Regions from separate parts of the Homo sapiens genome. Here all the other regions are linked to region 1. Evidence: fine-mapped expression QTL. A gene starts in region 1. Each other region holds a variant in brackets. All regions are shown on one strand. Distances are from middle to middle.

Region 1 (5,177 bases):
CCACCTACAATGCATTCTAGAAAGATCATGCTGCTGAGGATCATGGAAGCACCTTAGTTCCCATTGTCAAGCTTAGTTGTTCAGCTCTTCCTTAAGTTATATAAACTATCCCAGAATTCTTCTAAATTCTCCAACCCCTTTAATTTGGTTTAAATTAGCCAAATTACATTAATGTTGCATATAACCAAAACTTAAGGGATATAAATTGGTTGGGAGAATGTGTTGTAACCAGTAGTCTGTCAGGAAACTGTTGCATTTTTAGGTAGTTTTATCAAGCTGAGAAGGGGTGAAATGAGTGAGACTTACCTGACTTTCAAGACATCTATTTTTCAAACCATTTGTTTTCACTTCTTTACTGTGTTATCACCATCCTCCCAGGACTTTACACCAGAAATCTGAAGGTCACCACTGATACCATCTTCCCCCTTTGCTCCTACATCTAATCATTAGTTACATCTGCCAGGTTCCATATCTTGAGTATGTCTTTTCATTTCTACTATTACTGCCTTAGTTCAGGTTACTACTTTTCTTACACATTACATTACTATGGGCTTTTAAATGGCTTCTGTGCCTTTATCTACTCACAAACTATTCTTCATGCTGCAGTCAGAAGTGTTCTAAGCCAAAATTATTCACCTTCCAAAATGAAGATCTAATTATGTTCACAAGTCCTCTCCTTCACCCATTCCTCACCTCTAGCATTAATCTAACACTAGGTTAATCAAGGTAATGGGGTAGAAGGTCATGGGTAACTCCAAATCACACTTTAAATGAACTCTAGTCAAAGTACTGAATACAATGGATTTAAACTTGCTTGGTAAAACTACCTCTAATAATTTAGGAATATATTTGCCTTCTGTGAAAGCCATCGCAAAGTATAAAAATAGTGTAAGTACAGGTATTTAGGCTCACAAAATATCGTTATGACTGAAAAATTGGCAAAGGTTTTTTGTTTGCTTTGCCTCTTCGTTGAGCTCTCTTTCCGTAACAAATGGAAATAGAAGCACACAAATTCAAGAAAGGAGGCTCTAACAGACTGAAGATATTGTGGCTTTCAAAAAGGAGAGAACATTTTAGATGATATGAAGGAAATGTCACCCCGTTACTAAGAATTCACTCTATTCGACAGATATATACACGCTTCAGCAAGTGCTCCTAAGGATGAGAGGAGAGTAAGTTATTTTCATCTAACAGTCTCTATCAACACTCTTCTTAAAACACCTAATGCTTAACAACAGTCTAAAGAACACACTGGCTACTCATACCTCCCATAGGCAGAGACCTTGTCCTTTTTGAGCTGCTGTATCTCAGGTAATCAGCAATCACTTAGTGGATGATAATAATTTGCAAATTCCTCTGGAGCCTCTAAAGACCGTATCATGAATCATCAATTCAAATGCCTACAGGAGTCGGGCAGGTGATATGCAGGAGGAAATAGAGTCATTTAGGGCCCATAACAAAGGGGAGAGAGGCCGGGCGCGGAGGCTCACGCCTGTAATCCCAGCACTTTGGAAGGCCGAGGCGGGCCAATCATTTGAGGTCAGGAGCTCGAGACCAGCCAGCCCAACATGGCGAAACCCCGTCTCTACTAAAAACACAAAAAAATTAGCCAGGCGTGGTGATGCATGCCTGTAGTCCCAGCTACTCCGGAGGCTGAGGGAGGAGAATCACTTGAACCCGGGAGGCGGAGGTTACAATGAGCCGAGATCCGCGCCACTGCACTTCAGCGTGGGCGACAGCGAGACTCCGTCTCAAAAAACAAAACAAAAACAAAGGAGAGAGTACATAAGCCATCTCCAGGCTAGTTTCTTTAACTAGTCTTCATATAATAATCTCCTCAAGGTCCTGTTCTATCCCTACAAAATACAAAACAGTTCCTCGTGTCTTCCTTCAAATATACTACAGTCTTTAGCTCATCAGAGTAGCTGAGTTAGTCCAAGGCATAATCCCAAAAGCGAAACTGAATGTCAGAATTGATCTCATTTCAACACTCATTCCAGAAGTAGAAACTTCTGCAAGTTCAGCTTTTGACTATGAATTCTTCAGCGCGACTTTTGCAGAGAGCTCTGTTCCAAGAAGCTGGCGCCTTAACACAAGCTATCTACCGATGCACAAGGGAAGGCTGGCTTGGGTCCAGATTCGGCGGGAGAGTGGAAACGCGACGCTGGCCGACTTCAGCCACAAAGGCAATTTCTGCCCAGGGCTAGCGTTCCTAAGAGGGGGCCGAGAGAACGCCAGGCTCGGGCGTAGGGGCAAGAAGACCCAGAGCTAACGCACCTCTCGGAGGGCCCAAGCTCAGGGCTCAGTCACCCTCCCAGCTCGGAGCCGGCGCTGGAACACAGCGGCGCGAGGAGAAACCCCTAGAGACAGGGAAAAGGTGGACGTAGCGGCTGACGCTGCCCAGACGCTAGGCGCCGACAGGAGCCTGATTGTCACCGTACGACCAGTGAGGGGGCGGGGCGGAGCTGTGCCTCAAAGCGCCTGCGCGGAGAGCCTGCAATCAGGGACCAGGCTTGGGAGGCGACGAAGAGGAACGCTGGGCGCAGGAGGCCCACTGCATACGCAGGCGCACTCGGCGATCCCGGCTTTTCCGCGCGCAGTTCCCGCACAGGCATCGGGGGGGGCAGGGGCGGGGCAGGGGCGGGGATAAATGCGGAGGGACGGTCCAGCTTTAGCTCTCTGCTCGCCGCCGCCGCTGTCGCCGCCACCTCCTCTGATCTACGAAAGTCATGTTACCCAACACCGGGTAAGGGGGTAGGGGCGGCGCGGGGAGAGACCCTGTCGGGCGAAGGGCGCGTCTCGGTGGGGCCGCCGCGGATCGCCCGGGCTGGCCGGCCCGGCTGTGGGAGGTCAAGGATACTGCCTGGGCACGCTCTGAGCTCTGGTCCGCGCTGGGCACTGTGCACCGAGAATCTGCGGTAACGTGTGAAAAGGAACACAAACTTTTGTATTACAGGATGGCAGCAGTGTAGAAACCTTTTCCACGGGTAAAGGGCCGAGGGGGAGTCACCACGCCGCCCCCAGTGCCGGCCCTCCCTGAGTTTAGCAGGAGTGCGTGCCTGGCCGAATGCGTGTGAGTTCTAGGTGAAAGGTCGCAGGAGCAGCTCCAGAGTTTAAAGAGTTTTCACTTGTTCCTGACGCTCAATTCTAGAGTAATAATGGAGTGTTTAAAAAATGATTTCCAAATTAGAAACTAAACCGATCTTAAAACATGGGTATCTTTGGGGGATTTTTTTTTCACCTTAAAAAATTGTGTTAAAATACGTACAAAATCTGCCATCTTAACCGTTTTTTAAGTGTACACTTCAGTAGTGTTAAGTAGATTCATATCGTTGTGCAGTCAATCTCCAGAACTTTTTTCATCTGCAAGCTGAAACTCTATCCATGAAACAACTCCTCTTCCCCACCTCCGCTCGTACATTGGCAACCACCATTCTACTTTCTGGTTTATGTAAGGTCTGGGTATCTTGAGTTGAGTGACGTGTTGTCAGATTTTGTAATTTGCCTGAAACATGCAGGCATATAGCCAAAGACTTAAAACAGTTCAAAGAGTATAGGGTAAAAAGTGAGTCTCCCCATCCCTAAAATCTAGTTCCCCAGTTACTTACGTTTCTATTTCGTGCATGTATGAACATAATTTGTATACATCCGGATACACACACACACACACACACACACACACATACCCTTTCTTAAAAATAGCAGCAGACTCTATTCTTGGTCTTGCTACTTTTAGTTGGTATGTCTTGGGACATTCTTTCTTTGTTTTTTTTAAAGACGGGGTCTCCCATGTTGCCCAGACTGGCCTGTAGCCTTGAACTCCCAGGCTGATGTTCCTCCCTTCTTAGCCTCTGGAGTATTTAGGATTACAGGCATGCACCGCTGTGCCCAGGGACATACATTTTTAGTACATGGCAGATCTTCCGCCTCCTTTTTTTTTCTTTTGAGATGGAGTCTCGCTCTGTCTTCCAGTCTGGAGTGCAGTGGCATGATCTCGGCTCACTGCAGCCTCCGCCTCCCGCAATTCTCCTGCCTCAGCCTCCCGAGTAGCTGGGACTTCAGGCGCGTGCCACCACGCCCTGTTGATTTTTTTGTATTTTTAGTACAGACGGGGTTTCACCATGTTAGCCAGGATGGTCTCAATCTCATGACCTCGTGATCCGTCTGCCTCGGCCTCCCAAAGTGCTGGGATTACAGGCGTAAGCCACTGCGCCTGGCCCCTCCTCCTTTTTAATGGTTGCATAATATTCTGTAACAGCTTGAGTATCCATTATCCAAAATGCTTGGTTCCAGACGTGTTCGGATTTCAGATTTTCAGATTTGGTTTGCTCAACCTGTATATGAATATACCTTTGTTTATTTAACCTGTTCCCTATTGTTGGATACTAGACTGTTTCCAGTTTTTTGGATACTCTTTTTTTGCTTCCATAATTATACTTGTATTTATCTATTTGCACATATATAAGTGTATATGTAGGATAAACTCCTGGAAGTGAAATTGCTGGATCAAAGAGTAAATGTGGCTGGGCACAGTGGCTCACGCCTGTAGTCCCAGCACTTTGGGAGGCCGAGGCGGGCGGATCACTGGAGGTCAAGAGTTCGAGACCAGCCTGGCCAACGTGGTGAAACTCCGTCTCCACTAAAACTACAAAATTACAAAAATTACAAATACAAAAATTAGCTGGACCTGGTAGCGGGCACCTGTAATCCCAGCTACTCAGGAGGCTGAGGCAGGAGAACCGCTTGAACCTGGAGGCGGAGGTGGCAGTGAGCCGAGATCATGCCACTGCCCTGCCCTCCACCCTGCGAGAGAGAGTGAGAGTCTGTCTCAAAAAGAAAAAAGAGGAAATGCACTTTATATTTTGACAGATATTTCCAGATGACCCCCCAGAAGGGTTGCACACCCAAAAGGATAAATGAGATCCTCTAATCCCACTTGTTGGCTAACCGCAAAATAGTTAATGATGAAAATCTAATTAGAGAAAAAAGTGTCACCTCATTATTGTTAAAATTTGCATTTATTTTATCACAAGTGTGGATTTGGATCTCTTTGTGTATTTAAACCAGGGACAATTTGATCCCCAGAGGACATTTGGTAATATCTCAAGACATTTTTGATAGTCACAATTGAATGGAGATGCTAATGGCATCTCGTGAGTAGAGTACAGGGATGCTGG
Region 2 (5,000 bases), 790 kb before region 1:
TAAGGCATACTCCCTTCTGAGAATTTCTGGTCTAACTGATTGTCTAGCTTCACCTCCTGTTTCTATGGATTGTTTGTAACCAGCTTTTGCTGCAACTGTTACTGCTGATTAATATCTTGCTAATCATAGGTTATGGAAAGACTGTGTTTCTGTTTTAAGGCTCTGTTAGAAATTACTGATGCACACACTATATTGTAAATTCTTATCTCTGTATACTGTACTTCTGCATACAGATGTATGTTAAAGAATTACTTCATCCCCATGTGACCATCTCACCTCATAATCAAATGACCCTAAATCCCTCACTAACCTACCCCCGCCCTCACTAAACTTAATAATAAATGCGGGTATATTCAGTGCTTTGGTGGCACCACGGAACCAGAAGGCGGTGACGCCCCTGGACCCAGCTTTCACTATCTTGTGTGTGTCTATTATTTCTCAACCTGCCGATCCACCTGGGAACAAAGAGAGAACCCTGTTGCATTGTGGGCTGCTGGCCAGATCCCGCAATAAATCATGACCTGGACAAATACTTTTTTTTTTTTAGTAATTAAAAGTAAGGATGGCAAAGTGAAGCTGAAAAAATGACAATTTCACATCCTTCCCTCCTTTCCAGCTAGTTAGGAAGGAGACAGAATTTCCCAAGTTGATTCCAAGATCACACAGTGAGTCAACAACATAGGCTGAAGAAATTGTAGGAGCAATGGACAGAGACAGGACCCAGCAGGAGGTAAAGAGGAGACATATTTTCCAAGCACTGGGACAAATGGAAATAATTACTTGGCCACTTGCTGCCCCATCATTGTATCACCTTCCTTCAATCTTTTGGCTGCCACTCTGCAAAAAAAAAAAAAAAAAAAAAAAAAAAAAAATAGGTAAATAAATAAAATTCCATTCTTAATACATAGGAGCATCGGGGGACTGTTTTGAGTTTCAAGCCAAATGAAAAACTGCTGGATAAGTGTATGCGGCAATAAAACCCAGACAGATGAAGGGCTACAACTAGGTGAGATACAGGAGGAAAGCTGTTAGAGGAAGTTCTGCTCTGTGACCTCAGATAAGCACTCTGATTGGATTTTTTTATGAGTGAACACAAAAGTCTTACTGCCATGTTCAAGTAAAGATGAATTTCTACCAATGACTTTAAAAATAGAACCCAGGCACCACTGGGTAGTTATTACCCAAAACACTAGCTACGCAAAAAGATGCCAATTAACATTTTTAAACTGTATTTTCCACTTAAGATTTGAATCTTTATCAATCAGCTATGAAAAAAATGTAAAAGAATGATGGCTATGTTATTTACCGAGGCAAAAAAATACTGAGGACTTAGTAGTCAATAAAGGCTTTTGATTTCCTCCCCTCCCTGAGTTGTCTGCTGAGTATATAAGTTTGAGTCAACCACAGATTCACCTACATTAAAAGAATACAGGTAAATGGAAGGCCAGAAAAACTGATTTTAGTCTTAGCATCTTCCTCTATCCAAATTACTTGCCAGTAGTGAAATGCACAAATTGGGGTTTGGCTTCTTTTTTCTTTATGAGACGGGGTCTTGCTCTGTTACCTAGGCTGGAGTGCGGTGGCAAGATCTTGGCTCGCTGCAACCTCTGCCTCCCTGCAACCTCTGCCTCCCAGGCTCAAGTGATCTTTCTGCCTCACCCTTCTGAGCAGCTGGGACCACAGGCCTGCGCCACCAGGCCTGGCTACTTTTTTTGTATTTTTAGTAGAGACAGGGCTTTGCCATGTTGCCCAGGCTTTATTTTTTTCTTTTAAGGTTTTTTTTTTCCTTCTTTTTTTTTTTTTTTCTGGAAGTAATTCTGTTGAGCAGTGAAAGGCAAATTGTGCAGAGCAGATAGGAGATGGTTGGGACAAAGGGACTGAGGTGATCCCTCACTAAGCTACTTAGACCTTTGCCTGCAAAAGACGAGCGTGCATGAATCTTATCACTGATACTGGCTGGGAGAAACAGAAGGAAAGTGACAATGTTTTAAGTCAGTTGGATATTTTAGAAGATGAACTACTTCCAGATAGCATTTAACACAGCATTAGCATTTTGAGGGGCGAAATAAATAATACCTCATGTAGGGATCCACGGTGAGGAACAAAGCTTCAAGCAGGACCTCTACAAAATAAAGCATTCCATAGGCAATTAGAAACTCAAGGCCTGAGAGGAACAATAGACACTGAGCACCACTAGACAGGAGGGGTGAGACAGGGACAAGGGTTGAGAAACCACCCATGAGGTACCATGCTCACTGCCTGGGTGACAGGATCATTCGTACACCAAACCTCAGCCACATGCAATTTACCCATATAACAAGCCTGCATATGTACCCCTAAAACTAACATAAATGTTGAAGAAAAAAACGGAACTCAAGGCCTGATGCCTTCGTTTTTG[G/A]CATTCTTTTTTTTTTTTTTTTTTTGAGAGGGAGTCTCGCTCTGTCACCCAGGCTGGAGTGCAGTGGCGTGATCTTGGCTCACTGGAAGCTCCGCCTCCTGGGTTCATGCCATTCTCCTGCCTCAGCCTCCTGAGTAGCTGGGACTACAGCCGCCTGCCTCACAACGCCCAGCTAATTTTTTGTATTTTTAGTAGAGACGGGTTTCACCGTGTTAGCCAGGATGGTCTCAATCTCCTGACCTAGTGATCCATCGTCTCGGCATCCTAAAGTGCTGGGATTACAAGCGTGAGCCACTGCGACCGGCCTCTTTTTTTTTTTTTTTTTTTTTGAGACCTAGTCTTGTTCTGTTGCCCAGGCTGGAGTGCAGTGGCTTGATCTCTGAACACTGCAACCTCCATCTCCCAGGTTCAAGTGATTCTCATGCCTCAGCCTCCTGAGTAGCTGGGATTACAGGCGCCCACCACTGCACCCAGCTAATTTTTGTATTTTTAGTAGGGACGGGGTTTCACCATGTTGGCCAGGCTGGTCTCGAACTTCTAACCTCAAGAGATCTGCCCACCTTGGCCTCCCAAAGTGCTGGGATTACAGGCATGAGCCACCATGCCCAGCCTGTTTTTGGTATTCTAAAAAACCACAGATAATACTTCTGCTTCAGGAATGTCTTCCCATCTGTGCTTCTATCGCAGAGACAAGAAGGGGTTCTCATTTTTGGCCCAGCCCAGTTAATAATAATAATAATAATGGTAATGCTATTTACTCAGCACTCATTCCATGCTTTACACGAATTATGTCATTTGATATTCAACAAATATTGCTTCCATTTTAGGTTAGGCTTAGTTACTTGCCCAAGGCCACATTTAAACCATTATGTTACAGTGCTCACCATATGGCTTCATCGCCAGCCCCAGTTGGTGTGAGAGAACATGCATTTTGCTGGAGTGACTCTCATGTATTCATTCTTTGGAATTTTGAATTTGAGTCATGGCCATCATAGCTTAGATGGGACTGATCACTTTGTCATGCTACTTGATTGCGTCCCCTTTTCTCAAATGCTTACCTACCTGTAAACACTCCTTAGAGACTCATCTTTATTTATTTATTTTTTTTGAGATGGAGTCTTGCTCTGTCGCCCAGGCTGGAGTGCAGTGGCGCGATCTTGGCTCACTGCAATCTCCACCTCCCGGGTTCATGCTATTCTCCTGCCTCAGCCTCCCAAATAGCTGGGAGTACAGGTGCTCACCACCACACCCAGCTAATTTTTTGTATTTTTAGTAGAGATGGGGTTTCACTGTGTTAGCCAGGATGGTCTCGATCTCCTGACCTTGTGATCTGCCTGCCTCAGCCTCCCAAAGTTCTGGGATTACAGGTGTGAGCCGCCACACCCAGCCGAGACTCATCTTATAGTCTGAACTCTTCGTATAGCTACTGGGCAGTGCTTACCTCACTGCCATCATCAGGCTTATGAGGATAGAGAGGACATCCTCCCCATAGTCTGGTCAAAGCCATGAAGAGTAATGCACTCAAGCATGAATTTCAGTTATCAATGAAAGCAGGGGAATCCTGCCATGTGACATCGAGGATTCACACTGAGAACCCTGGAAAGGTCTTTGTGGCAGATTGCAAAATGGCCACAAATAACTCCCACCCTTGTGTGCTTGTCTCCTTGCCACTTCTCCCATCAAGAAATCTATTTTCTGCCTCTCGAATCTGAGCTTGGTTTTGTGATTTGCTTTGACCATGGGATATTAGCAAACGTGGCACAAGTAGAGGCTTGAAAAGGGCTTGCACAGCGGGGCATGGTGGCTCACACCTTTAATCCCAGCACTTTGGGAGGTCAAGGCGGGCTGATCATCTAAGGTCAGGAGTTCAAGACCAGCCTGGCAAAGATGGGAAACCCCGTCTCTACTAAAAATGCAAACATTAAGGCCGGGCACTGTGGCTCACGCCTGTAATCCCAGCACTTTGGGAGGCCGAGGCAGGTGGATCACCTGAAGTCAGGAGTTCGAGACCAGCCTGGCCAACACAGTGAAACTCCATCTCTACTAAAAATACAAAAAAAAAAAAAAATTAGCCGGGCGTGTTGGTGGGCGCCTGTAATCCCAGCTACTCAGGTGGCTGAGGCAGGGAGAATTGCTTGAACCTGGGAGGCAAAGGTTGCAGTGAGCCGAGATTGCTCCACTGCAATCCAGCCTGGGTGACAGAGCAAGACTCCATCTCAGAAAAAATACAAAAATTAGGGGGGCATGGTGGCGCACACCTGTAATCCCAGCTACTCAGGAGGCTGAGGCAAGAGAATCGCTTGGACCCAGAAGGCAGAGGTTGCAGTGAGCCAAAATCATGCCACTGCACTCCAACCTGGGCAACAGAGCAAGACTCTGTCTCAAAAAAAAAAAAAAAAAAAAAAGAGAAAGTGCTTGCACATTGGAGCTTGCCAACTACTGCTGCTCTAGATCTATGGGGCCACTATAAGAATAGAGCTCAAGCTAGCCTGCTAGAAAGGCCACATAGATGAGAACTAAGGCATGCACCCCAACAGAAAGCCTGCTAATCAGCAGACATGTGAGCAAGGCCCATCCTAAATTAACCATTTACCCCAGATGA
Region 3 (5,177 bases), 140 kb after region 1:
TTATAGCATTTAATTAGTATTTCAGTAAGTGCTGATATAAATACATCAGCTTGTCTCTTGTTCCTAATTATACAATATTGCAGGAAGTGGACTAGTATAATAAAAGAGGGGCTTCGGTCCCCTTGGTGATATGTCATCTTAATTAAGATCAAGGAGTTCTTAAGTTTTGTGTGTATGGGAAAATGGCAAAGTGAAAGCAGTTCTTTGTCATTTTACACTGGGCTTGATGGATTAAATTGGTTAGTAGTAAGGAGATGGCAAATTAATTTGTTTTTGCATTTCCAAAACACTTAAGATGGAAAATAGAAAAGATAGAGGTAGATGGACATGCTATCTGCATATTACTGCTAACGAAATCTAATTCAGTCTTTAGCACTGGCTTTGAGTAGAAGCACTACCTTCAGTTGTAGATAAGACAATGAATGTGGTATAGTCTCAAATAACTAGAGGCCAAATGAAATTGATATATTGCATTAGTTCTGCATTATTTATCATGTCTGATAAAGCAACAGCATATGCTTGATGCTTTTACCATCATCTACATGATACTCTATATTACTCCAAGTGAGTGACTATATTGGTCCTAGGTTAACTTTCACAGTAAGAGCTGTGGTATTCTGTATAAATTAATATCCCCAAACTTAAACTATAGATAGGAGAGTGGCAGAAGAAGCAGAAGCACTGATTGAAAAGGAAGTGAAGAAACAGAGAAATGAACAGGGTGTTGAAACTGAGAAATCAATGAATTTTTCACAGTAATTATACACTGTAAGTGATTCTAAAAGAGGAAATCCAGACCATCAAGAAAATACTGAATACAAATAAATGTTAATTTTTAGTTCCCAATAAGAACAAAGTCAAAATACAAAGAATAAAAATGGAAGCTAGAAATACTGATGTCCTGAGTTTTCCTTCTAGGAATCCTTTTTAGACCATCTGTGGTTTGAATCAAGACAGCATATGTTGGTCCTTTTCAACATATGAAACATATCCCCAGCACCTGGCATGCAGTACGTGGAAGTTAGGCGGTGCTAAATAAATGATTTCTTTAAATCTTTTTTTTCTTCATGATGTAATGTGTGCCATCTCCTTCTTTGTTTTGTTTTCTATTTCTTTAATTTCTCCTTTACATTATAAGCCTTTTCTTCTTGTTTCTTTTGTCGTGTTTTAAACTTGTTGGGTTTAATATTTAAACAATATTTTTCAATTAAAAAAATTTTCTAATAAAGGCATGTAAGACAATCCGTCTTCCTGGGTTCTTTGCTTTGCCTGTTTTCCTTAGGTTTTAATGTGTCAGTTTCTTGTATTTCTAAATAGCCTATGTTGTTGTTGTTGTTGTTGTTGTTTAAAGAGATAGGTCTTGCTCTGTTGCCCAGGCTGGAGTGCAGTGGTGCAATCATAGCTCACTGTAACTGCAAACTCTTTGGGCTTAAGTGATTCTCCCACTTCAGCCTCTTAAGGAGTAGCTGGGACCACAGGTGTGTGCCACTATGCCCGGCTAATTTTTTAAATTTTTTGTAGAGACAGGTTCTCACTCTGTTGCCCAGTTTGGTCTCAAACTCCTGAATTCAAGTGACCCTCCCACGTTGGCCTCCCAAAGAGCTAGAATTACAGGCGTGAGCTACCATGCCAGGCCCTCTGAATAGTCTATATTAATTAGAATAATATTTTTTAAAGATTTTCTCTTAGATTATCATGTTAATTTTTAGTTTTATTGCATTTCAGTCATAAATATGGCCTATATGATTTTTGCACTTTGGAATTTTGAGATTTTCTTTGTGGCATATTGCATGATAACTTTTGAGAAATGTTCTGCAGGCACTGGAAAAGAATATATATTCTGTATTTGAAAAAATACATATTCAGGTTTAATTGTTATTCTGATTTTTATATCTGTCTTGAATTTTTCTTCTAATTTAGTTTTTTAAAAAAATCAATAGGATACATTCTCTTGTTATCCCCATTGTTAAAGTGCATTAGACTGATTACTGTGTGCCCTTATATGCCCTTAAATGAAATGTCTTTATTTTTCTCCACACACTTGAATAATCATTGCTGGGCATAGAATTCTGGTTTTAAATAA[C/CTTTATTTATTTA]TTTATTTATTTATTTATTTATTTATTTTGAGACGAGTTTCGCTCTTGTTACCCAGGCTGGAGTGCAGTGGTGCAATCTTGGCTCACTGCAACCTCCGCCTCCCAGGTTCAAGCAATTCCCCTGCCTCAGCCTCCCGAGTAGCTGGGATTACAGGCATGTGCCACCATGCCCAGCTAATTTTCTATTTTTAGTAGAGACGAGGTTTCTCCTTGTTGGTCAGGCTGGTCTCGAACTCCCGACCTCAGGTGATTCACCCGCCTCGGCCTCCCAAAGTGCTGGGATTATAGGCGTGAGCCACCGTGCCCAGCCACTTAAAGAACTTTTTCCTAAGAAACTGTAGACCACCTTTGCTATCCTCTAGTATTTCATGCTTCAGATAAGGGATCTTACTCTTTTTTAGTGCTTTATGCCTAATACTCCAGCAATAGTCACCCAGGTTTCACCTTGTCCTGTTTAATATCTCTTCCACCTCTAAGTAGCTCTGGGCCTGCTTTCCTTTCACCTGAGTCACATTTTATATCTGTCCAGTCACTGTGCTGTATAGATCTACCTGGTGTATACGCCTAGCCTGGGTCTTTGTTGGGGCCATGATTCTCTCCTCCTTGGTTTCATTCCAAGGATGTGATTGGCTTGATATATGTGATCATTCTCATTGCTTGCTTTGACCTTGGGTCCTGACCCTCATTGACCCAGTTGGGACCAATTACCTTACTTTCACTTACCATATCTACTTATTTATGGCTCCATCCTTGGTTATAGTCAAAAAGCTCAGCCCCTTTACCCAGCCCTGAGACTAAAGCTGGGCAAGATGAATGTTCTAAAGTCCTAGTTGAGAAGGTCTCAGCTCAGTCCCCAGTGGGTCCTTGGAACAGCCCAGGATACCAGAGCAGGTGCTCATTCCCATTGTGTCGACCCTAACATCTGACATCTACCTCTTGGGTTACAGCAGGTGAAGTAGAAATTTGAATCCACATGGCCCAGATTGCTTTTAGAATGGATAGTGGGAGTACTCTCAAGTTAACAGGTGTAGGTAGCTTGAATTATCAAGATACAGGGCTATGCGATGACAACTGGGCAATGTCATTTCTACCCACAGCACAGCTAGATACCATCATAGCACTCATCCTCACAGCCACCCCTCAGAAATGGATTTCTTGTTTGCACTTATGATTCCTTATTTGAGAAGTGGTATTACATTCAAATGCTAGGGATTGAGGGTGGTTCCATTAGGATGCTGAGATTTTTCAGTTACCTGGAAATTGGTTGTGTTCATTTTAAAGTACTAACCAGCCAGCCTGGGCAACATGGTGAAACCCTTCCTCTACAAAAAAATACAAAAATTAGCCGGGCGTGGTGATGTACACCTGTAGTCCCAGCTACTTGTGGGGCTGAGGTGAAAGGATTGCTTGAACCTGGGAGGTCAAGGCTGCAGTGAACCGAGATCGTGCCACTGCACTCCAGCCTGAGTGACAAAGTGTCTTATTAAATAAATAAATAAATAAATAAAGCACCAACCGGTAGATATGTGGTTTTAGATTTGTCCTGGATTAAATGAAATTTAAACCATTTATCAGATCTGGTCTCTGGCCTAGAATTTCCTCACCTTGTTTTATGCTTTTGAAAGTCCTGGGAAGAATAATCCTGAATTGGACTCAGATCTCTTGCTTTTACTCTTTGACTTCATGGGTGGATAGACACTGTTTCGATGGGGAGTTATGTTCTCAGAAGTTACCACATGTATCAAATATGCCCCAAGTAGAGAATATACATAATATGCAAACCCCAGAAATGGTTTAAGACAGGACTCAAGTATGAGTTGATAACTGAGGGAACACTTAGGTTTGTAGGTGATGAAGCACAATTGCAGACTGCATTGTGGAGATTTTGAGTTATTCTTACTTTGGGGCCATAGTTTCCCATTCCCCTGACTCTCCCTGCTTACTCTCTCCACCTCCACATATACAAAAGGCTTTAGTGGCTCTTCTAGCCAACTAATATACCCCTTCTAGTCGAGTTTCTAAAGAATGGTGTGTATGTGTGCATGCACCCCTCATCCCATCCTATTTCCTTTTGATTTCAACTATTTTTTTAAACGTTAACCATTTCCCATCTATATCTCCACATACCCAGAAGCCAACAAAATGCCACCAGTGGCACAGACGTTAAGAGTTCTGAGGGATCAATACAGTTCTGAAAGAGATTTGTGTGTGCGTGAGATTTGAGAAGGGGTTCTAGTTATGGTGCTGTTGAAATAAAATGTGGATGGATCCAAGGCCCAACCAAGGACATGTGAAAACTGAGAAAACCAAAGCATGGGCTGTAGAACTGGACTGTAGGAATTGACTCTCTTTTGTGTATTGAACAGCCATTTACAAATTCATGGCTTTGGCGTGCTCCGCGCTTGAAGGGGGTCTAGTTTAGTGACCGGTTTCAGTTTATGCTATACCTCGGAAAATATGGAGCGACTGTGACTGAGAAAGCGGCCTTAAAAAAATTGTAGTAAAATACATATAACATAAAATTTACTATCCTAACCATTTTAAAGTATGCAATTCAGTGGCATTAAGTTCATTCACATTGTTGTGCTACCATAGGCTGCTTTCTTTTATGATGCTCTAGAAAAGTGAGAATTCTTCTTTCCTGACTAGTGCAGTGTTATCCAGAGATCTTTCTGTAGTGATGGGAATGTTCTCCTTCTGCACCTTCCAGTGTAATAGCCACTAGCCATCTGGCTCTTAAGCAGTTGGAATGTGGCTTCGTAAGGAACTGAATTTTTAATTATATTTAATTTTAATTATTTTAAATTTAGCCACTGTAGAAGAGGATTAGCAAGTCTTTAATGACCCTAGTGCAGCCCTGGAATCCTGGGGTTGCTGGTTCACAGCGCCCTGATGCTTCCAAAGGAGTCAAGGCTTATCACTATGGTAAACTAGGGTTGCATTTTCTCACAGAAATGATAATATAATTCTGGTTGGCTGTGTTATCTGGGAATATTCTATACTTCTGCTCAGCAGAATAGGCTCAGTGAGATTCTTTTGAGTGGCCTGAGAACCTAATATCATTTTATATAGAACATTGTCTTTATGATAAGAT
Region 4 (5,000 bases), 67 kb before region 1:
TTAACAACAAAATATCAACACTTTTTTTGAAGACAGCATATTGAATATTTTCTTTAATGCCTGCAAGTAATTCCTCTAAAAAGCCTTCTAATTCATGATATCCAATCAAAAAGACATTCATTTGTATATTTATTCAGTTCTTACCATACAGGTATAGCCCATACATATTGAATTCAGTATGTATAAATGTGTTAGCAATAATATTCATTCATTCAACAAATTCGATAAATATTTACTGAGCCACCAGCTATGTGCCAGGCCTTTAACCACTGGGGAAGATTAGGGAACAAACGAAATCCCTGCCCTTACCTTAATGGAGCTTACAATCTTGCACAAAGAAACATAATAATCAAAGTAAGTAAATTATGTATTATGTCCTAAAGTCTTAAGTGCTTCTTAAAAAGTAGGAGAAAAAGCATCAGGAGTGCCAGAGGTGAAAAGAATTTCAATTTCAAATAGGACAGCAAGGTACGACTTAAGAGAAAAAGGCATTTAACCAAAGTCTTACAAGTAGTAAGGAGTAAGCATGTAGATATCTGAGGGAAGAATGTTGTAGGTAGAGGAAACAAAATGCCTTGCATGTTCTGGAAAAACAGTAAGGAGGCAATTATGGCTGAAAGAGAATGAGCAAGGGGAGAAGTAAAGAGATTAGAGAGAAGGTGTGTCATAGCATGCAGGGCCTTAACGGCCATTCTAAAGAACCTTACTCTGAGCGAAATGAGGGAAAGAGAGTTTTGAACAGGAGTGAAAAGATCAATTTGCTTTTTTAAAGGATCACTCTGGCTGCTGTGTTAAGAACAGTCTTTAACAAGACAAAGAGGGAAGGACTCTGGTTAGGAAGCTGTGATGATAATCCGGATTAAGGGCCAGGGCAGTTGCAGTTATGGTGGAAAATGTGTTTTTTTTTTTTTAATATACGATTGGCCCACCGTATCCATGGGTTCTGCATCTGTAGATTCAAACAATCACAGATTGAAAATATTTGGAAAAAAACTGCATCTGTATAAACATGTACAGACTTTTTTTGTCATTATTCCCTAAGCAATACAGCATAACAACTATTTACATAGCATTAAATCGTATTATAAATAACCTAGAGATGACTTAAAGTATTCAGAAGGAACTGAGTTAAGTTATATGGAAATACAGTTGACCCTGAACAACATGAGTGAGTTTGAACTGCCCGAGTCCAAATGAGGATCAAAAATACAGTATTCCCAGGATGCAAAACCCAGTTATATGAAGGTTGACTTTTTATACATGCAGGCAGACTTCACCTATACAGAGCCAACTGGAGAACTTGAGTATGCATGGATTTTGGCCCCCCCTAGATACTGAGGGACAACTGTACTCTGAAACAGATTTGCTAGCCAGGCACAGTGTATCAGGCCTGTAATCCCAGCAACTTGGGAGGATGAGGCAGGATAGCTTAAGGCCAGGAGTCTGAGACCAGCCTGGACAAGAGCTAAACCCTGTCTCTGAAAAAAAACGGTTTTTTAATTAGCCGGGTGTGGTGACTTATGCCTGTAGTCCCAGCTACATGGGAGGCTGAAGCAAGAGGATCATCAGAGCCCAGGACGTTGGAGGCTGCAGTGCTCTAGGATCGTGCCTGTGAGTAGCCACTGCACTTCAGCCTGGGCAACATAGTGAAATCCCACATCTTTATTTTAAAAAGAAAAAAAGAGTCAATGTAATGAAACAAAAAGACTGAGGACCTATTTCAGATTAATTTCCTGATTTTGTTAACTGTATCACAGTAATGAATGGGAAATTCTTTGTTTATAGGTAATACACTCAAATATTTAGGGGTTAAAGAATAAACTCTAGTCTCAAAGCATCTTCCAACAAATCATTGATTACGAAAAGAAAATTGGTAACTTTACAATGGAAAAGCCTGGCAGAAAATCACCTTAACCAAGTGATTAAGACATAAAAAAAAGTGGGGAAGCTAAGGCAGGAGGATCACTTAAGGCCACGAGTTCGAGACCAGGCTGGGCAACATAGTGAGACCCTGTATCTACAAAACAACAATAACAATAACAACAACAATTCACTGAGCGTGGTGGTGCATGCCTGTGGTCCCCAGCTGTTCAAGGACTGAGACAAGAGGATCACTTGAGCCCAGGAGATCAAGGCTGCTGTGATCTGTGTTCATACCACTGAATGAACGAGACCTTGTTTTTTTTTTTGTTTTTTTTTTTT[A/T]AAAAAAAAAAAAAGGACGTGTGTGTGTGCGTTTACATCTATAGAAAGACTATATATGGAAGGGGAAATGGTAAGACAATCGGGGAAATGATAAATGAAAAATGGTGCAAATATGAACTGGGTAAAGGATATACGAGTTCTTTGTACTCTTCTTATAATCTTTCTGTAACTTTATATTAAAATAAAATTTTAAAAAATAATAATAAATCAATGAAATTCACCACATTAGTACACTAAGAAAAAATAAACTGTTAAAAAGCAGGCCGGGCACAGTGGCTCATGCATGTAATCCCAGAACTTTGGGAGGCCAAGGTGGGCACATCACTTGAGTCCAGGAGTTGGAGACCAGCCCAGGCAACATGGCGAAACCCTGTTTCTACAAAATACACAAAAATTAGCCAGGTATGGTGGTGCATGCCTGTATTCCCAGCTATTCAGGAGGCTGAAGTGGGAAGACTGCTTGAGCTCAGGAGGTCAAGGCTGCAGTGAGCTGAAATTGTGCCACTGCACTCCAGACTGGGTGACAGCAAGACACTGTTTCAAAGAAAAAAAAAAGGAAAAGGAAAATCAAAGTACATATGTGGTATGTACACACTATGGTAAGCTATCAGATAAAGATAACATGATCATATAAGAAAGTCTTACCCATAGTAATTTACAACAAAAAAGTACTTGCACTTACATAATCTTACTCTGACATTAATAAGACTTTTTTCTTTTAAGAGACAGGGTCTCGCTCTGTCACCCGGGCTGGACTGCAGTGATGTAATCACAGCTCACAGTAACCTCCTCTCATGGGCTCGAATAATCCTCCTACCTCAACCTACCAAAGCACTGGGACTACAGGTGTGTGCCACTACACCCAGCCTAATAAGTTATTTTTATATTCATTTCTTCAATATTTATTCACCATTGTGAGCAGGCAGCTGTATTGTTTATCCATGCCTGGATAACTAATTACTCCAAAATTTAGCAGCTGGAAAAAACAAATATTTTGTAACTTAATTTGTGGAAGTCAGAAACCTGGACATGGCTTAGCTAGGTCCTCTGGAGAGTCTATCACAGACCGGAATCATCTCAAGGCTTAACAGAACACATGAAGGATCCACTTCCACACTTACTCAAGTGGTTGCTGGCAGGACTCAGTTTGTACATGGGCCTGTCCATAAGATAACTTACAACATGGCAGCTCACTTTTATCAGAGTGAGCAAAAAGAAAGCAAAGCCCAAGTCTTTTGGAAGCTAATCCTTTTAAGTAGATTTAAGTCCACCATCTCGCCATTTGTTGTCTTTGGCTCAACTGTTCTTTAACCTATCTTAAACATAGATAGATTAAAAGAAAAGGAAAAGGAATAGGAAAAAAATACAGTCAGCTCTCCATACCGATGAATTCATCCATGGATGAACCAACTGACGACGGAAAACATTTGGGAAAAAAAGTTCCACAAAGTTACAAAAAGCAAAAGTTGAATTTGCCATGTGCCAAATACTACCTTAAATGAATCCACGCAAATGAGGTTATGTGTAAGCACTGTATTAGGCATTCTAAGTAATCTAGAGGTGATTTAAAGTATACAGCAGGATGTGCTATAAGTTATATGCAAATACTGCTCTCTTTATATAAAAGACTTCAGCCTCTGCATCCACAAATTTTGGGGTCCTTGGGAAGTACTGGACCAATCTCCCAAGGACAAGAGGGACAAATGTATACCACACAAATACCAATCATAAGAAAGCTGGAATGGCTACATTAACATTAGACAAAGTACACTTCAAGATAGGAACTATTACTGAGATAAAAATGTATATTTCACAAGGAGACAAAAGGTCAACTCATCAAGATATAACACTCCTAAATGTGAATACATATAGTAACTGAGCTTCAAAACACGTAAAGCAAAAACTGACAGAACAGCTGGGTGCAGTAGCTCGTGCCTCTAATCCCAGCACTTTGAGAGGTCAAAGTGGGAGGTTCGCTTGAGCCCAGAAGTTTGAGATCGGCCTGCACAACAGAACAAGGACTCATCTCTACAAAAATTTAAAAATTAGCCAGAGACAGCGGTGTGTACCTTCAGTCCCAGCCACTCAGGAGGCGGAGGCGGGAGGATCCCTTAAGCCTAGAAGAGAGCCTGGGCTAGAGAGCGAGACCCTGTCTCAAACAAAACAAAACAAAACAAAAAAACAAAAAAGAAACACCTCACAGAACTACAAAAAGAAATACACAAATCTACAATTGCGGACAGAAATTTCAATATTTCTCTTCTCTTTAACAGAATAAAAAATCAGTAAAGATACAGAAAACCTGAATTTCAACCAGTCTGTCCCACTGACATTTTTTTTTTTTTTTTTGAGACGGACTCTTGCTCTGTCACCCAGGCTGGAGTGCAGTGGCGCGATCTCGGCTCACTGCAAGCTCCGCCTCCCGGGTTTACACCATTCTCCTGCCTCAGCCTCCCAAGTAGCTGGGACTACAGGCACACGCTGCCATGCCCGGCTAATTTTTTGTATTTTTAGTAGAGACGGAGTGTCACCGTGTTAGCCAGGATGGTCTCGATCTCCTGACCTCGTGATCCGCCCACCTTGGCCTCCCAAAGTGCTGGGATTACAGGCATGAGCCACCGCCCCCGGCCCCCACTGACATTTAAAAGGCACTACACCCAACAAAATTAGACTACACATTCAAGTGTACACAGAACATTCATAAAGACAAACCATGTTTAACATAAAACAAACTTCTGGATACATAAAGGGACCGAAATGATACAAAACATCTTATCTGATCAAAGTAGTAAGCTTTA
Region 5 (5,177 bases), 160 kb after region 1:
TAAAGAAGAATATATTCATGAATATATTCATAAAGAGGATATATTCATGAATATAATCATTATAAAGAAAATATTCACATTTATTGAATATTTTCACAAAGAATATATTCATATGAAGACTAAACTACTCTACAACTCTTTGCATTTTACAAATTAGTTTTTAAAATCCTGCTATGAAGCAGAGTGTAAATCATTCTACTAAAATTTCACTGAAATCTTCGAAAAGTGAAAAAGTATAAATTTGGTATCTTCAGTGAATTGATCTATTTATGAATTGGCTCCTAGTGAATAGTTCTTGGCAAATTAATTTAGAGCCCTCTCTCTCTGCATGAGATGAACCATTATTTATTACTGCATCTGCCCTGGGAAAACCAAGACAAAAAGAGGGGGATATTGAAAACAGCTGGGCTGAGTGTTCAGAACAGACTGATTAATAACACTAAAGAAATAAAGGTTCTTGTTAGAAGGAAGGCCTGCAAGCCACTGCATGAGATTTAAGGACCACAGGTGCTCAGGCTGGTGAGACTGGTATGGCAGGCAGTATTTTGGGGCTGAAGAGTTTAGTGTAGTTACCATGTGCAAAATGATACAAGTTTAAGTTTACTCATAATAGAAACTGGAAAATTACATGGCTTGCTTCGGGAGTTCCTCACTTCATTTTGTTTTGGTATTTCAGAAAAGAAATTCTGAGGCTTTAGACAGTTTGCTACTCACAGATCTCATAAATCAAGCATTCTTCATGACCTGGATCTATCTTGAGCAGATCAAAGCTCTGAGCAGCTTGAATAGTGCTCACCCAGAGGCTTACTGCCAGTAACAACCCAAATTTCTTAGCCTATTTGTTTTTGTTGTTGTTGTTTGTTTGTTTGTTTGTTTGTTTTAAAGCAGCAGTAAAACACATTGTGGGTGCACATTTTTTGGAAAAACCAGAAGTTCAAATATTAGTAAAATATTTGGACTTAACATTTTATGGGCACTCAGAAGTAACCATCAACTTCACATGTATCTCTGAGCAAAATATTAACCACTAATAACCATTAGTAAATGGATGCTGAGTGGGCCAGATCTTGCTGACACCTTGGTTATATGGTGTTTTGTGTGGGATATTAGTTTTCTGAGGTTTGTACAAAGGAATTTGTAAAATGCTTAATTTTATCATTAACTTTACCACTTTACCATTGAGCTTCTGAGCTTCTTTTTTTTTTTTTTTTTTTTTTGAGACCCAGTTTTGCTCTTGTTGCCCAGGCTAGAGTGCAGTGGCATGATCTCGGCTCACCTCAACCTCCACCTCCCAGGTTCAAGTGATTCTCCTGCCTCAGCCTTCCTGAGTAGCTGGGATTACAGGCATGCGCCACCATGCCTGTCTAATTTTGTATTTTTAGTAGAGATAGGGTTTCTCCGTGTTGGTCAGGCTGGTCTCGAACTTCCGACCTCAGATGATCCACCCGCCTCGGCCTCCCACAGTTCTGAGCTTCTTAAAGTCAATACCCATGTCCAATTTATATTTGCTGTGCTATTGCATCTAGCACAATTTATTGTGTGTAGAAGATGCCTAAAGTTTGTTTTTAATGAATACATATATGAAATGTCTGTCATGGAACTATCTATTTTCCTTTTATTTGTATTGCTATTTTGCCCATTAACTAAAGGATATGGATGGTAAGCCTTGTCTATGTCTCTATTGTCTTAGTAAAGATGCCCTTTTTTCTTGTATATCCAACCTTTGTGCACTAAAATCCTCTTTCCCCACAGCTTCACAGAATACTAGATTCATTGTTTAGCCCTTTTCTTATCTGTAGCCTTCTTTACTGTAAAGTGGAGGGAAAATGTTTAGTGATTTGAAAAGTTTCAAAATTTTTCTGTACTATTAGACTTGAATGAATGTCAGATCTGAGAGGGCCCTGCGAGACCACTATTCAATCCTTTTGTTTTACTCATGAAAAACTCAGAGTTCTAATTGCTTTCGCACTATAACTCATGCCATGCTATTTTGTAATTGCTTAGTTGTTGGCATTTCTAGCTAGACTTTAAATTCAGTGGGAATAGGGACCACATCTATCTTATTTAATGCTGTATTTCTGACACAGCACAGTGCTTAGAAGAGAATAGGTGTTCAGTTAATGGTTCAGTTATGAATAAATAAATAAATAAATAAGTCAGGATTGGTGAAGGGACTTGCTCAAAGTCATGTGACTATTTAGGGGGCAGCCCCCAGTTGCTGAATCTGTTAAGCACATTAAAAGTCAGAGCTCTGTAATCTACTCTGCCATCCTGGAGAGAGTCAAGGTCAGTGGAAATGACTAATTTTTCTTAAGTGTGTTTGTTAAGCTCTGCAACTTATACATTTCCACATGTTGGCTTTCAGTATACCGGAGACTGCTATATAGGAAAGCAGCTGACCAAGGAAATGTAGAGGATGTGCTGCCATTATTTTTGCCTTGGAGGCTTTTTCAAGAGACACTTCTACTTTTCAAAGCAGTGAAACTTCATCTTAGGAAAAGAAA[T/G]TTTCCCCAGCTACAATCTAATTTTTAATCTTTTTTTTTTAATTTTAACTTTCCACACTATACCATCATATTAATCTTATTTTTAAATGTATTGTTTCTGAAATCCTGAGTGCCCCAGCGATCAAAAACTCTGCTTAGGATTCAGTTCATTAATGTGAGGGCTCAGACTCTTAAGGTACTTATAAAACCTCAAGGACTATTGATACTGGTCATTTGTGAATTCAAACAGAAACTTCCAGAATCATCATGACCTTTTAAAGTTTCATCCTTAGTTTTTCTGGTCTACCGTTGACCTCCATTAATGATCCCAAATCTGCTTGTTTTGCAGAAAATAAAATGTGTACGTGGTCACAGAAACGGTTGTTACCTGATGATCTTTAAGATCTTGGAGTATAATACTGTGGGTCATTGATGTCTTTTACTGTTAAGTTCCCCATCAGTACCTATATTCACCTTTTGACTGCATGGTAAATTGCTTTGCTTATGTATGAACTTAGGTACTTGTAATGAAGTCAGAATTTAAACCATATTGAGGGAGAATGGGAAAAAGAATAAGACTGGAAAGGAAGAAACTGTCAAGTCAGGGTTTGGCTTTTCTTGTTATATGCCATTCTATTAAAATATGTATATTTTTGTACTTTTTTTGAACATATGAAATGATCATATTTTACTTGACATTTATCACTTATTTAGCAGCAGAAAAATACATGTAAATGGAAATGCTATCATCCCTTTGAAACATGTCTTTTTAACACTTAGGATTCGTGCTATTTGCCAGGAGGGAGTTTTTCTACTTACAGAGCATCTGGGAGATGAATTGGAAAGGCAGACTTCTGGTCTGGTTAGCACTTTTGTTGTTTTTTATTTTCTTTTTGGGTCCCATATTCATGAAAGATTTGTCTTAGCATTTTTAGATAAATATTTCTTTAGTGATACACAGGTTTCTTTGTTTTTTTTTTTTTTTTTTTTTAGTGAATTTCAAAGAATAATGGCTGCCATTCTTGGATCTTGGCCTTTATTGATTTGGATATTATTGATGTATGAAATACATAAACTTGTCAGATGCTTTGTGAGTCTCTCCTGATCTTAAGGCATTTTAGAGCATCTAGTAGTAGAGTGTCCTTGAGTTAGCTAAATTTATACTTATTTTGAGGCTGGCAAATTTGTGTAATATTGATGACCTAGAAATGAGATAGGAGTTCTGCAGGACTGGTTTCACATGATACAGGTCATAAAGACCCCACTGAGAAAACAGGATGAGGTAAAGAATCTGGCCAAAACCCGCCAAAACCAAGATGCCAATGAAAGTGACCTCTGGTTGTCCTCACTGCTCATTATATGCTAATTATAATACATTAGCATACTAGAGGAAACCCCCACTAGCACTCTGACAGTTTACAGTCATCATGGCAATGTAGGGAAGCTACCATATATGGTCTGATGGGGGAGGAACCCTCAGTTCCAAGAATTCCCTGCCCCTTTCCTAGAAAACTTATGAATAATTCACCCCTTGTTTAGCATATGATTAAGAAAAACCATAAAAATAGCCAACTAGCAGCCATCACAGCTGCTCTTCCTATGCAGCTGCCACTCTTTTATTCCTTTGCCTTTTTTTTTTGAGACAGAGTCTCACTCTGTTGCCCAGGCTGGAGTGCAGTGCTTTCTTAATAAACTTGCTTTCACTTTACTCTGTCTGCTGGCTCTTGAATTCCTTCCTGTGTGAAGCCATGAACCCATGTGGCCTCCCAAACTGAACTCCAATTTTGAGGTTTGCCCTGTAGAAAGGAATATAGTTTGAATTGAACAAATATTATGATTGTTGTATATTACATGCTTCTGCTGTACTGAATTTTATGTTTCTCAGAGTTCTATGTCCTCTCTTACCTGGAATACTCTCACTCTCTCTGCCCTGTGTAATTTAATCATGGTTATCCTTCAAGTATGAACTCGTCTTTTCTCTAGGAAGCACTCCTTGACTCGTTGGGAACTAGGTTAGCTACTGCCTCTCTGTGCTCCTTGACACCCTGAGCTTTCCTACCAGAGTTGTAAACCAGAAATAAGAAATATGTATATATATATATTTTTTGAGACAGTCCCGTCTGCTGCCCAAGCTGGGGTGTGGTGGTGTGATCTGCAACCTACGCCTCCTGGGTTCAAGCGATTCTCCTGCCTCAGCCTCCCAAGTAGCTGGGACCACAGGCGCATGCCACCACTCCCTGGCTTGGCGCGGTAGCTCACTCCTGTAATCCCAGCATTTTGGGAGGCCGAGGCGGGTAGATCACCTGCGACCAGGAGTTTGTGACCAGCCTGGCCAACATGGCGAAACCCCATCTCTACTAAAAATACCAAAAAATTAGCTGGGAGTGGGGTGCGTGCCTGTGGTCCCAGCTACTCAGGAGGCTGAGGCCTGAGAATCACTTGAATCCAAGAGATGGAGGTTGCAGTGAGCCACAGTTGTGCCACTGCACCACAGCCTGGGTGACAGAGCAAGACTCTGTCTCAAAAAAAAAAAAAAAAAAAAAAAATTCTAAGTCTCCCCAACTAACTGAACGGACCCCTTTTCTGGGACAAGGGCATTCCAAAGTTAACCTGAAAAACTAGTTCGGGCCATGATGCGGGGTTGGGGAGTCAGACATGCTTCATTATACCCTCCTTCCTTTGGAGTTCAGACAC

Which allele goes with the higher level. Alleles are on the strand shown, and positions count from the first base shown. SD is a standard deviation of normalised expression in the study named. Not every link is listed here.
In carriers of allele C in region 3, the expression in CD8 T cells of the gene that starts at base 2,674 in region 1 tends to be higher than with CTTTATTTATTTA alone (moderate effect, 0.55 SD a copy in CEDAR).
For the expression in monocytes of the gene that starts at base 2,674 in region 1, T is the low allele of the variant in region 5 and G is the other (moderate effect, 0.65 SD a copy in Fairfax 2014).

What was found.
Region 2: its variant is fine-mapped to the expression of HSDL2 in hypothalamus (GTEx, PIP 0.92).
Region 3: its variant is fine-mapped to the expression of HSDL2 in CD8 T cells (CEDAR, PIP 0.92).
Region 4: its variant is fine-mapped to the expression of HSDL2 in whole blood (INTERVAL, PIP above 0.99).
Region 5: its variant is fine-mapped to the expression of HSDL2 in monocytes (Fairfax 2014, PIP 0.95).

Annotation. Positions count from the first base shown.
Region 1 is chr9:112,377,435-112,382,611 of GRCh38, forward strand. It overlaps HSDL2 (hydroxysteroid dehydrogenase like 2), which reads left to right and starts at 2,674. Exons shown (of 11, transcript NM_032303.5): 1 at 2,674-2,746. The coding sequence starts at 2,730. It also overlaps a transcript of PTBP3 not described here. RefSeq lists enhancers at 1,858-1,907, 2,008-2,257, 2,257-2,856, 2,288-2,407 and a silencer at 2,628-2,877.
Region 2 is chr9:111,592,146-111,597,145 of GRCh38, forward strand. PTGR1 (prostaglandin reductase 1) reads right to left here. Exons shown (of 10, transcript NM_001146108.2): 3 at 2,077-2,122; 4 at 781-837. Among named protein-coding and RNA genes, the nearest start is that of PTGR1, 5.0 kb to the right of the region's middle. RefSeq lists an enhancer at 1,764-1,933. The variant G/A (reference allele first, on the strand shown) is at 2,399.
Region 3 is chr9:112,519,878-112,525,054 of GRCh38, forward strand. All of the region lies in intron 1 of KIAA1958, which reads left to right. Among named protein-coding and RNA genes, the nearest start is that of HSDL2-AS1, 35 kb to the left of the region's middle. The variant C/CTTTATTTATTTA (reference allele first, on the strand shown) is at 2,084.
Region 4 is chr9:112,310,299-112,315,298 of GRCh38, forward strand. All of the region lies in intron 1 of PTBP3 (polypyrimidine tract binding protein 3), which reads right to left. Among named protein-coding and RNA genes, the nearest start is that of PTBP3, 21 kb to the right of the region's middle. The variant A/T (reference allele first, on the strand shown) is at 2,203.
Region 5 is chr9:112,542,373-112,547,549 of GRCh38, forward strand. The region is part of intron 1 of KIAA1958; the gene reads left to right. Among named protein-coding and RNA genes, the nearest start is that of HSDL2-AS1, 57 kb to the left of the region's middle. RefSeq lists enhancers at 3,817-4,111, 4,743-5,177. The variant T/G (reference allele first, on the strand shown) is at 2,505.